Regions from separate parts of the Homo sapiens genome. Here region 1 is linked to region 2. The links come from fine-mapping of genetic effects on gene expression. A gene starts in region 2. The other region holds a variant in brackets. All regions are shown on one strand. Distances are from middle to middle.

Region 1 (5,383 bases), 100 kb before region 2:
ATCTCAATGCCAGCCAGAGTGATCTTGTTAGAATGTAAATTAGACTATGGACTGCCTCTGCTTACAATCCTTCAACCTTTCCACTGCATTCAGAAAAAAATCCAAACTCCTTGTCACGGTCTATGTATCTCTGCTGACCTTTGCAGCTTCTTTCTTGTCCATTCCCTTCTTTGCTTTCTACATTCCTGGCATGTGAGTTGTCTCACATTTTCCCAGATGTTTCTAGTTTCTATTGCCTCAGAGTCCTTACACACTCCAATTCCTCTGCCTGCATCAGTGGACCATCCACTTTTCACATTCAAGGGTCTTTCTTATACTTCAGGGCTCTGCTTAAAATTTACCTCCCAGAAAGACCTTTCTCCATTTCCCCCATGCAATCCAGAGTAGGGCCCCTTCTCCTCCCCCGGCTTTTCTCTATATTTGTGACCAGTTAGTTTCCCTTAGAGCACCTATCCCCATTTGTCATCGTTCTCTGTTGTTTTTTTGTTTGTGCTTTCCAGTGGAATATGACCCTAATGAACTACAGACCCTGCTGAGTGCCTACTGGAATGACTGCAAATACATAGGAGGTGTCCAGTAAAAGAAAAGAAAAGGAAAGGAAAGAAAAGAAAAGCCTCTTAGCTTCCTTTCCTTAACCTAACAGATTTAAACCTTCCCTGCCTTCCTTTGGTTGAGCTTCACCACATACCTTTAGACTTGCTTTAAGGAATACATTCCTGCTAAAGAGATTCATTGAATTTCTACCATGTGTCAAGCATGGTGCTAATAAATGTGATAAATCTGGAAGGAGAAGGCATTCTGGTATAGCAGAGAGAGGAGCTTGGCTTAGGAGTCTGAAAGACCCGGATACTGCCAGCTCCTCTCAACCAGCACACCACTGGTAAAATGTTACTTTTCTTGGCCTCATCCCCTCAAAAACAAAATCCAAATCTTAGATGTCCTGCTTACAGGTCCCCACAGGAACATTCCCATACCCTAACATTTATCATAGTAAGTAATAATCTGCTTACCCTTCTTTATTTTCTACTAAACTCTCGAGGATTATTCATCTTGCTCACTATCTCCCTCACCCCCTTTTACACATGCTGTATTGGAAGGCTTAAAATTTCTGGAGCTGCCTTGAAATCTTTGAGCCTCACAGAGTCCTGGAGGCCTAACTTTGTGTCCCCCTCCTCTTGTCAGATGTGCCCCTTGCCCTGCACCCAGTAGGGAAGATTCTTCTATCAGCCAGCTCAGTTGCATTAACCTGGCCCTCAACCTAAAATAACAGGTTTCACCTCCCTACCAGCCCATGGAATTATTCAAACAACAAAGTACACCCTCCCACAGGAATCAGGGGCCACCTCACCCCCTTGTCACAACACAGCCTGCCTCCCAAAGCCCTGTTTGTTCATTCTGTTGAGTATAACCCCTGTGTGGTCCTGCAGGGTATGCAGTGCCTTCTACCCCAGGCTGTCAGTATATGTGACTAATGAACTGCTGTCAATCGCATGGGTCCAACGTCAGGTGTTGTGTGCTTGGCTATTCTCAGAGTCTTAGGGCAACACTCCCTCTTTCACCAGCGGGGCAAAGAGGAGGCAACAAAACACTCATATCCTCACATGCCTGCACTAACATACACACAACAAGAAGTATGATAGTGATGTAGGCAAAAAATAGTAACCCCCATAGGTTTGCAGATGAAACAGACTCCTGTTACAAAAGGCAGCTTAACAAGAGAAAAACAACTAGAAGCTTATTAACATTCATATGTCACATATATGTGAGAGATACCCAGAGAATGAGTAGTTCTTGAAGAAGTGGCTTTGAATTCCAGCTTAAGTAGCATTTTCAAAAAACAGTACATTTTTAGAGAAGTGACAAGACAAAGGAAAAGGGCTTTGAATCTCTACAGCTGGCAATGTGCGGAAAGGTAAACAAATGGCAGATAAAGGCTGGTTTGTAAAGCTTGTTAATATAAATCCCTCCGGTATCATTTCCAGGTGGTGAAGGTCTAAAGCTGTCTTCAGTGGTTAACCTGTGTTCACCCTGGTGGAGAGGGGACAAGGTATCTTTTGCCTTTGTAAATCTATGTTTTGCTTTTAAGCAAGTGGAGGGAGGGCAGAGAGCTCTATCATCCTGGAGGAAGCATCTGACAGACTCCTGCCTTGGGATGACACACTCTTAGCCACAGCTTTCAAAGCCCTCCTGAGTCCTCGACAGACACTGCAAATTGATCATGGTACTCTTTCCTGCTGCACCTGGACTTTGCCCCAGAATCATTCTCCACTTGCTGAATGTAGTCATAAGAGATAAAGCCTATTTCTCACTCGGCCCCAAACTTCCCGTGATCAGTGTCCTGTGATGAAGGAAACTCTGCGGCTTATAACTACATTTGTAGCGCTCAGCTCTGCATCCCACTCCCAGTACCGGGGCTCAGATCATCCAAGCTTCTTACTGGAGAAGAATCTCACTCTAGGAAATTTTTAATGTTTTCAATGTCATTGGTCATACATCTCAATTTTTCCGTACCTTAATGGCTTCTTTCACAGACTCTCAGCAATGCCATACCATCTTTCTGTTCCTCTGCTGGTTCTAAACTGGGTTAGACTCACATGGAAACAAGCAAATATAATTGTAAATTCATAATTATGTGATGTGGTAGAGAGAACTCAAGGTTTACAGTCAAGGTAGACTTCCCT[G/A]CCTCATCCTTGTTGAGCTGTGTGACTGCAGGCAAATCATTTGTACATCTCTATATCTTGGTTTTCTCATTTGCCAAGTGAGGACAATAATAATATCTGTCCTCCCAATATCATGTATCATTACATATGTAACATTAATATAACATATAATGTTACAAAGTAGCATAAATGAATAACATTTAAAAAGTTAAACCTCCAAGGTGTTTAAAAGCAGCATACGGGTATTTCTTGCCACTGCAAGAAAAAATCTGCCACTTTTCTCCAGGGTGGCTGAATAAATAGGGCAGCTTTTCCAGAGAGGCAGCCATAGTAGACATTCCATTATGCTACTGCATATTCAACTAGAGTATAAAATGTGAGCCCTCAGCCTGGAGGTGTTAATGAGTTGCCACTTAGAAGGACCAGGGAAGCAAATTAAGTGCATATGCATAAAGCAGTCAGAACTGCCAGCCCTCCATGCTGTCTGGAAACTGAGCTGCTCAGGCCCTCATCCTCTGTTCATCTCATCCCCTGATTTAGCAGCTGTAGTTGGTGGACCAGGTTCATGTGAATAAGACCATTGGCTTTTCTGCCTCCACTTCCCAGAACCATCTCACTCCAGACCCTGTCTAAACTAGTGAAGTTGAACACATCCAGTACTTGGGCTCATCATCAGAGAGATGGAGGTGGGTTGGTCACCAAGAGGTAGGATGCCCACTTCATTGTTGCTGAAAAACATGCTTTAAAAGCTTCCTAAGATTAATGATAGTTACTTTTCTCTTTTAAGTTATTTTTTCCTATATGGTTTCTGTTTTCTACAAATTCCCTGTTTCACTGTTGATTAGTTTTGGTCTGCATCATTTAGGTAGAGTCTTTCTTCAAGTATCTGCCAATCTTGGGCTGTCAGCATGTATTTAAGAGAAGGATATTAAAAAGCCAACCAGAGACTTGAAAGAGCATGAGTGGGGCTGGGGGCTTCATGGCAGAAGGGTCACAATCAGCAACATCAGTATCTCTGTGTCTTTTCTCTTTGACTGGTTAGGTTACTCAAAGAAGGCTGTTCTTTGAGTCTCCCATCCCCAGCTCCATATCTAGCCTGGAGACTGCCAGCCTTCTGAGGACCTGGTGGAGAAGGGAATAAGGAGTCCTTAGAATTCAATATGTAGATTTTCATCAAACCTTACTGTTTCCAGTACATTATCCCTGCCCTACACCCAGAATGGGGGCTAGATGGCCACCAATCCAGAGTCCATTTGGTTCACTGTCTCCAGAGAGTCAGTTTCTGTATTCTGTTTCAAGGAAAGGGGCACTTGTCAGCTTTGAGAAGCAATAGAGGTTATCCAGGAGTCTAAGTGCACTGTAAATAGATTTCCAACCGATCTTGTGGTTTTCAGCCCCCACTTCTGTCCCATCTCCTCACACTTTCACAGATCCCTGATGCTGCCAATTATGGAGTCCTGGATCTCTAAGGTCCCTATCAGCTTGCTTTTGGCCTCCCTCACTGCTGGCTGAGGATTCAATGTTCTGAGGTTGCTGAGTCAGTTGCCCTTTATCCTTTTGTCTTCCAGCTTCAAAGATTTTTTTTTTTTTGCTTTTTTTTCCCTCTCATGTTCTCAAAGGTTTATACCTTTAAAAGAAAATCCCTTTCAAAATATTTTTAATGGGACTGAAGGATCAGAAGAAAGACACATGTGTTCAATCTACCATCATTAACCAAAAGAGAGAAAATACCAACACAAAAAAAAGACATAGAGCACATGTGACGTGTGTATCTTGGCAAGATGCTGCTGCCAGGGATTCAGAGCCAAAAGGAGAGCCCAGGTTTCTTATATCACCTGTTTTCCTTAATGCAATCCCACAAAGTAGTACTATTTTCCATATTTATTAAGAAGGAACAAGTAATAATAAGAATTAGTATTATTGACTCTCTAGTATGACCAGCTGTATGTCTTTTAGGGCTTCCCTACAAAATACCACTGACTGAGTGGGCCTTAACAACAGAAATTTATTTTCTCACAGTTTTGGAGGTTCAAAGTCCAAGATCAAGGTGTTGACAAGCTTGGTTTCTCTTGAGGCCTCTCTCTTTGGCTTGCAGACGGCCATCTTCTACTGTGTCTTCATATGATCTTTTCTTGGTGCACAAGTATTTCTGGTGGTTCTCCTTCTGATAAGGACAGCAGTCATACTGGATTGGGGTCTCACCCATGTGATCTAATTTAACCTTAATTACTCCCTTAAAGACCTTAACTCCAAGTACAGTCAAATTCTGAGGTATAGGGGGTTAAAGACTCTAACATATGAATTTTGGGCAACACACAATTCAGTCCAGAACTAATCTGGTCATTTTATTTCCATTTCTTCATTTATTTCTCACAATCAGCCGAGGGTTAAGTATTATTATTATTATTATTGTTATTATTATATATGAGGAAACTTCTGTTTAGAGAACTTAACTAACTCTTAGACTGCACAGCTAGAAAGAGATTATGTATTTTGTTTTCTATTGCTGCTGCAACAAATTATCACAGTCTTAGTGGCTTAAAATTACACAAGTGTATTATCTTACAGTTATGTAGTTCAGAAGTCTGAAATGGGTCTTACTGGGCTAAAGTCAAGGGGCCAGAAGGCCGCATTCCTCTCTGAAGGCCCTCAGGAACAATCTGTCTCCTTGCCCTTTCCAGCTTCTAGAGATTGCTCGTGTTTCTTGACTCAAGGTTCCTTCC
Region 2 (5,383 bases):
GAACACATACTCTCCCAGTACTGGGGAAAAGGACCCTTTTTAGAATGTGCAAGTCCCATGAGAGAGTAATATGTCCATATTAGAGTTTTGGTGGTGGTTTTTTTTTTTTTGTTTTTTTTTTTTGAGTCAGGGTCTTGCTCTGTCCCTCAGGTTGGAGTGCAGTCATGCGATCATGACTCACTGCAGCCTCAACCTCCTGGGATCAATCAATCCTCTCACCTCAGCCTCCCGAGTAGCTGGGACTACAGGCATGTGACACCATGCCCAGCTAATTTTCTTATTTTTTGTAGGGACAGGGTTTTGCTATGTTGTCCAGGCTGGTCTTGAACTCCTGTGTTCAAGTGATCCTCCTGCATCAGCCTCCCAAAGTGTTGGGATTACAGGTGTGACACAACATACCCACCCCATATTAGAGTTTTCATTTGAAAAAAAAAAATGTTGTTGCTGGTTGTTATATCTTCAGACTTAACTTGCTTCTAATTCTAGTCTGGCTTCTTTAAGATAGTGTGATTCTAAGAGTGTTCTAAACTTAAGTGGCAAAATTTAAGTAGATGATTTTATATTCTTGATTAAAGGGGGCCAGGGAGGTTAATACAGTAAATATTTGAAATTGATATAAAATAAATACATACATATATCTAAACCATTCATTTTTGCAGCTTTCAGGTAAAATCTAGCACTTTATTCCAGTCTATGAGATGTGGTTAGTTGATATCATCTAATATTAAGTAATGACATCAGCTATCCAAATCCTGGGCACAATTCCTTTAGCAATGATGACCTTTAATAGAATTTAGCTTAAAAAACTAGGAGATTTCTGCTACAGTGATGCAATCTTTCACATCTTATTTATTAACAAAAATCAACAATCCAGCTTTCCTTAGGTCTTCACGCACTAAGAGTTCTCTAGTCACAGAAATCCTAGCCTTGTCTGCACTCTCCACAACTATTATAAACTCCATGTTAGTATCAAGAGTTCCAGTAAAGACCAAATATCTCTTGGCCACCAACATCCCACATTAGGAAATGTGCATTACTAATTATTCTGTTTTACATTACTTCCTGCTCTAGGGGATGTATGTACAAATTCATTCATAGAAAATTGGTAAAGCAGCCGGGCGCATTGGCTCATGCCTGTAATTCCAGCACTTTGGGAAGTCAAGGTGGGAGGATCGCTTAAGCACAGGAGTTCAAGACTAGCCTGGGTAACATAGGGAGACCGCCGTCTCTATCAAAAAGAAAATAAAAGAAAAAAAATTGGTAAAGGACACACGTGATAACTGAAGTTTCCAGATGTGAAGAGAATTCTCATTCTCAGGCAGTGGACCCCCCCCCCCACTCCCCTCCACACTCCTTCCACCTTCCCAGGCCACCTGGCCTCAGGCTGAGGGGGAGGTGAAAGTTTCCAGGAACCAGAGGGCGTCCAAACCCAGCGGCCGTGCGGAGCTCAAGGTCCCGCCGCTGCTGTTGCGGCACCAGCCTGGCTCATGGACATCACCACGCACCTGCAAGGTCAGGTTTCTCTCTGGTGGCTGTGGCGGCTGCTACCCTCCTCGCCCATTTCAATCTTACTTTCACACTACATGACTCCACTATTACTTCCTGAACACTAGCTACCTACGCAGCTGTAATAGTGGACACTGTGTCAACCTTTAAGCTCGCACACTTATCAAACCTCGTTCTTCTATATTAAAAAGTGCTAGCTTCCCAACGGGACTATCCAAAGTGCAGTTGCAGGACCTGCCAGGAGCCCGCAGGGCTGCGGGTGGTTCTTGCGTAATCGCGCCAAGAAAGACCTGGTTCCAGTTTCAGGGACAACTCGCCCATAAACTTCTACTGCGCAACAGCATCTGCTGCTTTGTCTGACACTTGTTGTTTTCAAGTACCCCTAAAAAAGCGAAAGAAAGACTTACCTTTCTCGGAGGCACGAACCAAGCAGCCTAGAAGACAAATGCGCTGCTCGGAGAGACTGCCGCGGCAACCAACTGGACACCCCAAGAGCTCACTCCTCCGCGGTTTTATATTCCGACTTGCGCACAGGAGCGGGGTGCGGGGGCGCAGGGAGTGTGGGTAACAGGCATAGATTCCGCTTGCGCAATACGTGGTAAGAAACCAGCTGTGAGGGGCTGGCCCAACGCAGAGCGGCGCGAGGTCCGCTTGGCATCTACAACAATCGAGGGGCTAGTCCAGAAGTTCAAGGCGGGGTTACAGGTTGGGGAGGAACTGTTAAACTGTGGACTTTTTCTCACCTGTTGGAATAAGCTTCAGGCAAAACTTTGCCAACAAAAACCGGTCCAACTGATTTTAGACGAAAGTCCAAAAGCAGTTTAATGCAGGACAGATAATCTTTTCCACAAATGATACTGAAAAGACAGGACATCTATAGATTCCCCCCCGCCAAAAATAACCCTTACATAAAAATTAAGTGGCTAGATATAACTGTGACGAGTAAAATTACAAAACGGTTTTAAAAAACAACAAACTATTGTCTAAGGCTAGGCAAAAGGTTCTTAAATTGACATTAGTGGCAAGACCGGTAAAAAGAAATGTTGATGAATTAGACTCCATAAATTTAAAACTTTTGCTTTGTGAAAGACCCTGTAACGATACTGAAAAGGTTTACCTAGGAGAAAATATTTACAAGCCATATATCTGGCATACAACCAGTATCTAGAATATGTAAATAACTCAAAAATCAATTATTTTTAAAAATCCAATTAGAAAATAGTCAGAAGACATAAACAGACACTTCACTGAAGATATGCAGATGGCAAATAACCATATGAAAACCTTTAATGTCATTAGCCATTAGAGAAATGGGAATACGAGGCTTTCGTTGTTCTTCGCCTCCCACTAGGGCGGGTTGAGGGTCTGGCTCCAGTAGCCCCGGGTGCCTCTCACTCCTTGGGCGCAATGCTACTATCCTGGCAGAACCCTCGCCGAACCCTCGCAGGACGCCCCATCGGGTCCGCCAGCGGCTAGGAAGCCCGATTGTGTCGTTCCTTTTTCCCTCTGCGCCTCCCACCGCCAGTCCCTTTTCCAAATGCGCCTGCGTCTGCCCTCCACATCTCCGAGCTCCGTCTGGCTTCTTTCTCCCTTGCCTGTGAGCGCCTGGCGGCGGATGCATTGAAAGCTGCGCACCACCGCCTACCGAGCGTTTTGGGGAGTGTGTGGAAGTTGTTGGCAGCAGGTTTTGACAGCAGTACCCTATGGGCCTAGTCGTTGACGGTAGCACCTGGTTTTGTGTGCCCCAGCCAGCTGAGGCCAGGGTGTGTGGTGTGGGCCACTGGTACTGCTCTTCTGCCACTATAATCCCTCCCCCTACCAGGTACCTGGTGCGTAGAAGTCTAAAGACCTGTGAGGTCTAGCCTGGCGCCTGTAATCCTAGAGAATAAGGAGGTTGAGGCCAGGAGTTAGAGACCAGCCTGGGCAACATGGGGAGAACTTGTCTCTACTTTAAAAAAATTTAGCCCAGTGTGGTGGTGGCCGCCTGTAGTCCCAGCTATTTGGGAGGCTGATGTGGGAGGATCACTTGAGCCTCCCACATCAAGGAGATCGAGGCTGCAGTGAGCCGTGATCACAGCCACTGTACTCCAATCTGAGCAACAAAGTGAGAACCTGTCTCAAAACAAATTCCAACCTGATTCTGGTATAGCATCACATGACAGGTAGCAGCCCTAAGGGCGATCAAAGTATTTTACCCCAAAATATATTTCTGACATATTTTGGAATGGTCCTGTGCAAAGCTATCTTTTGCGAGGGAAATTTGTGTTCTGTGGACAATCTCCTTCCCTTTCCAGGTCTTTCTCTGATCCGGGAGAGATTTAACTAAGAGTCTGACACCGTTTAAGGTCATTTACCTTTTGAGGTACATATGCCATCTATTCTTTCTGAAGCATATTACAGGCTTCACATATGTAACAAGAACCCTGGCTTCCACAACCTCCCTCCTGCCACCACTGGCCAAACCCCTCCTCCTCCAAAATGTACCGGCTTTCCAGGTCAAACCAATGTATACCTTACATATATTGACTGATGTTTTTGCCTGTATCTTCTGTCTTCCTAAAATGTATAAAAGAAAACTATAGTCCAAACACCTTGGACACATGTTCTCAGGACCTCCTGATGCTGTGTCACAGGCCGTGGTCACTCATATTTGGCTCAGAATAAACCTCTAAATATTTTACAGAGTTTGGCTTTTTTCACTGGGTTTCCCCACTCATTTTATTGGCATTAGCTCATACTCTTTCTGTCCAATCATATTTCTACATTGCTGTCTATATTTTATTAATCCTAAGTTAAAAATAGACAATTTCCTCTATATGCTTGGGTCATCATTCTGCAGGCTCCCATGTATACATATTAAATACATTTGTATGCTTTTTCTCCAATTAATCTGCCTTTTGCAGGTTGATTTTTCAGTGAGCCTTCACTGAAGTTTCCCTTTGGTCCCTGCACTGGTAATTAACTCAAACTGTTTTACCAAAATTTGATTCATAGCCTTTATCTCATTTTACCAGAAAAATAATTTGGATCCAACTGTTCTCTATAAACCAGCAAGTTTATATGTTTTACTATCTCACAACTAAAATTCTAAAATAAAAGCTAGAAGACCTTTATGTGTATATTTGTTTAAATATATTTACACATATGTACATGTATTATGTTGTATGTTATGTCTACATAATAAAATTCAGTGTGGTAGGCCAAAAATCCCTTAAGAAATGTTAATCTGATTGGTTTAAATAGATGGGCACTCACACAAAAACATAGTAATTAACCTAATTTTTTTAGTTCATGTAACTTAATCTTTAAAAAAGTAATTGGTTTTAAAATTGTTGATAAAATAAAATTAAAAACGTCTTTCTAATTGTCAATATATATTTTTGCCTGTGTTTACTGGTGTGGGGGCTATGGCTCTCAGCCCCCCAAAGATTTGCTGGAAAATCACTGACATGGGCCACATTGATTAGTAAGAGAAAAGACATACAAATGTATTTAATGTGTATACACAGGAGCTTTCAGAATAAAGACCCAACTTCTCAATGAGTTATAGAAGTTTATACACTAGTCTTGAAATTACAGAAAGAATGGGGGGCTTGGATTCTGGTAAAACAGATTATGGGAGGAGAAGAGGAATTTATTGAGGGGCAATGAATGATTGGTGAGAGAATGATTGGATTGAGCAACAGATATTAACTTGTAAATAGTTTTCTTTGGAATTTAAATAATCCTTGGAGGCAGTCATTGTACTTCTATAAAGGTCTGCTTGGGTGTGGTTACATTTTGGTCTTCTTTTCTTTAACAGATGAGATAACAGGAGGAGGAGAACCAACAATTGCTCTCCTTGGTGGGTCTGGTTGTTAGGCAGATAAAGGAACTT

What was found. PIP is the estimated chance that this variant, and not a neighbour inherited with it, causes the effect. A credible set is the group of variants that fine-mapping cannot tell apart.
Region 1: its variant is the best candidate, but not a certain one, in a credible set for the expression of DIRAS3 in lung (TOPMed, PIP 0.52).

The regions. Positions count from the first base shown.
Region 1 is chr1:67,948,157-67,953,539 of GRCh38, forward strand. All of the region lies in intron 1 of GNG12-AS1 (GNG12, DIRAS3 and WLS antisense RNA 1), which reads left to right. Among named protein-coding and RNA genes, the nearest start is that of DIRAS3, 100 kb to the right of the region's middle. The variant G/A (reference allele first, on the strand shown) is at 2,682.
Region 2 is chr1:68,048,635-68,054,017 of GRCh38, forward strand. It overlaps DIRAS3 (DIRAS family GTPase 3), which reads right to left and starts at 1,993. Exons shown (of 2, transcript NM_004675.5): 1 at 1,914-1,993. All of the region lies in intron 2 of GNG12-AS1 (GNG12, DIRAS3 and WLS antisense RNA 1), which reads left to right. It also overlaps the pseudogene ARL5AP3.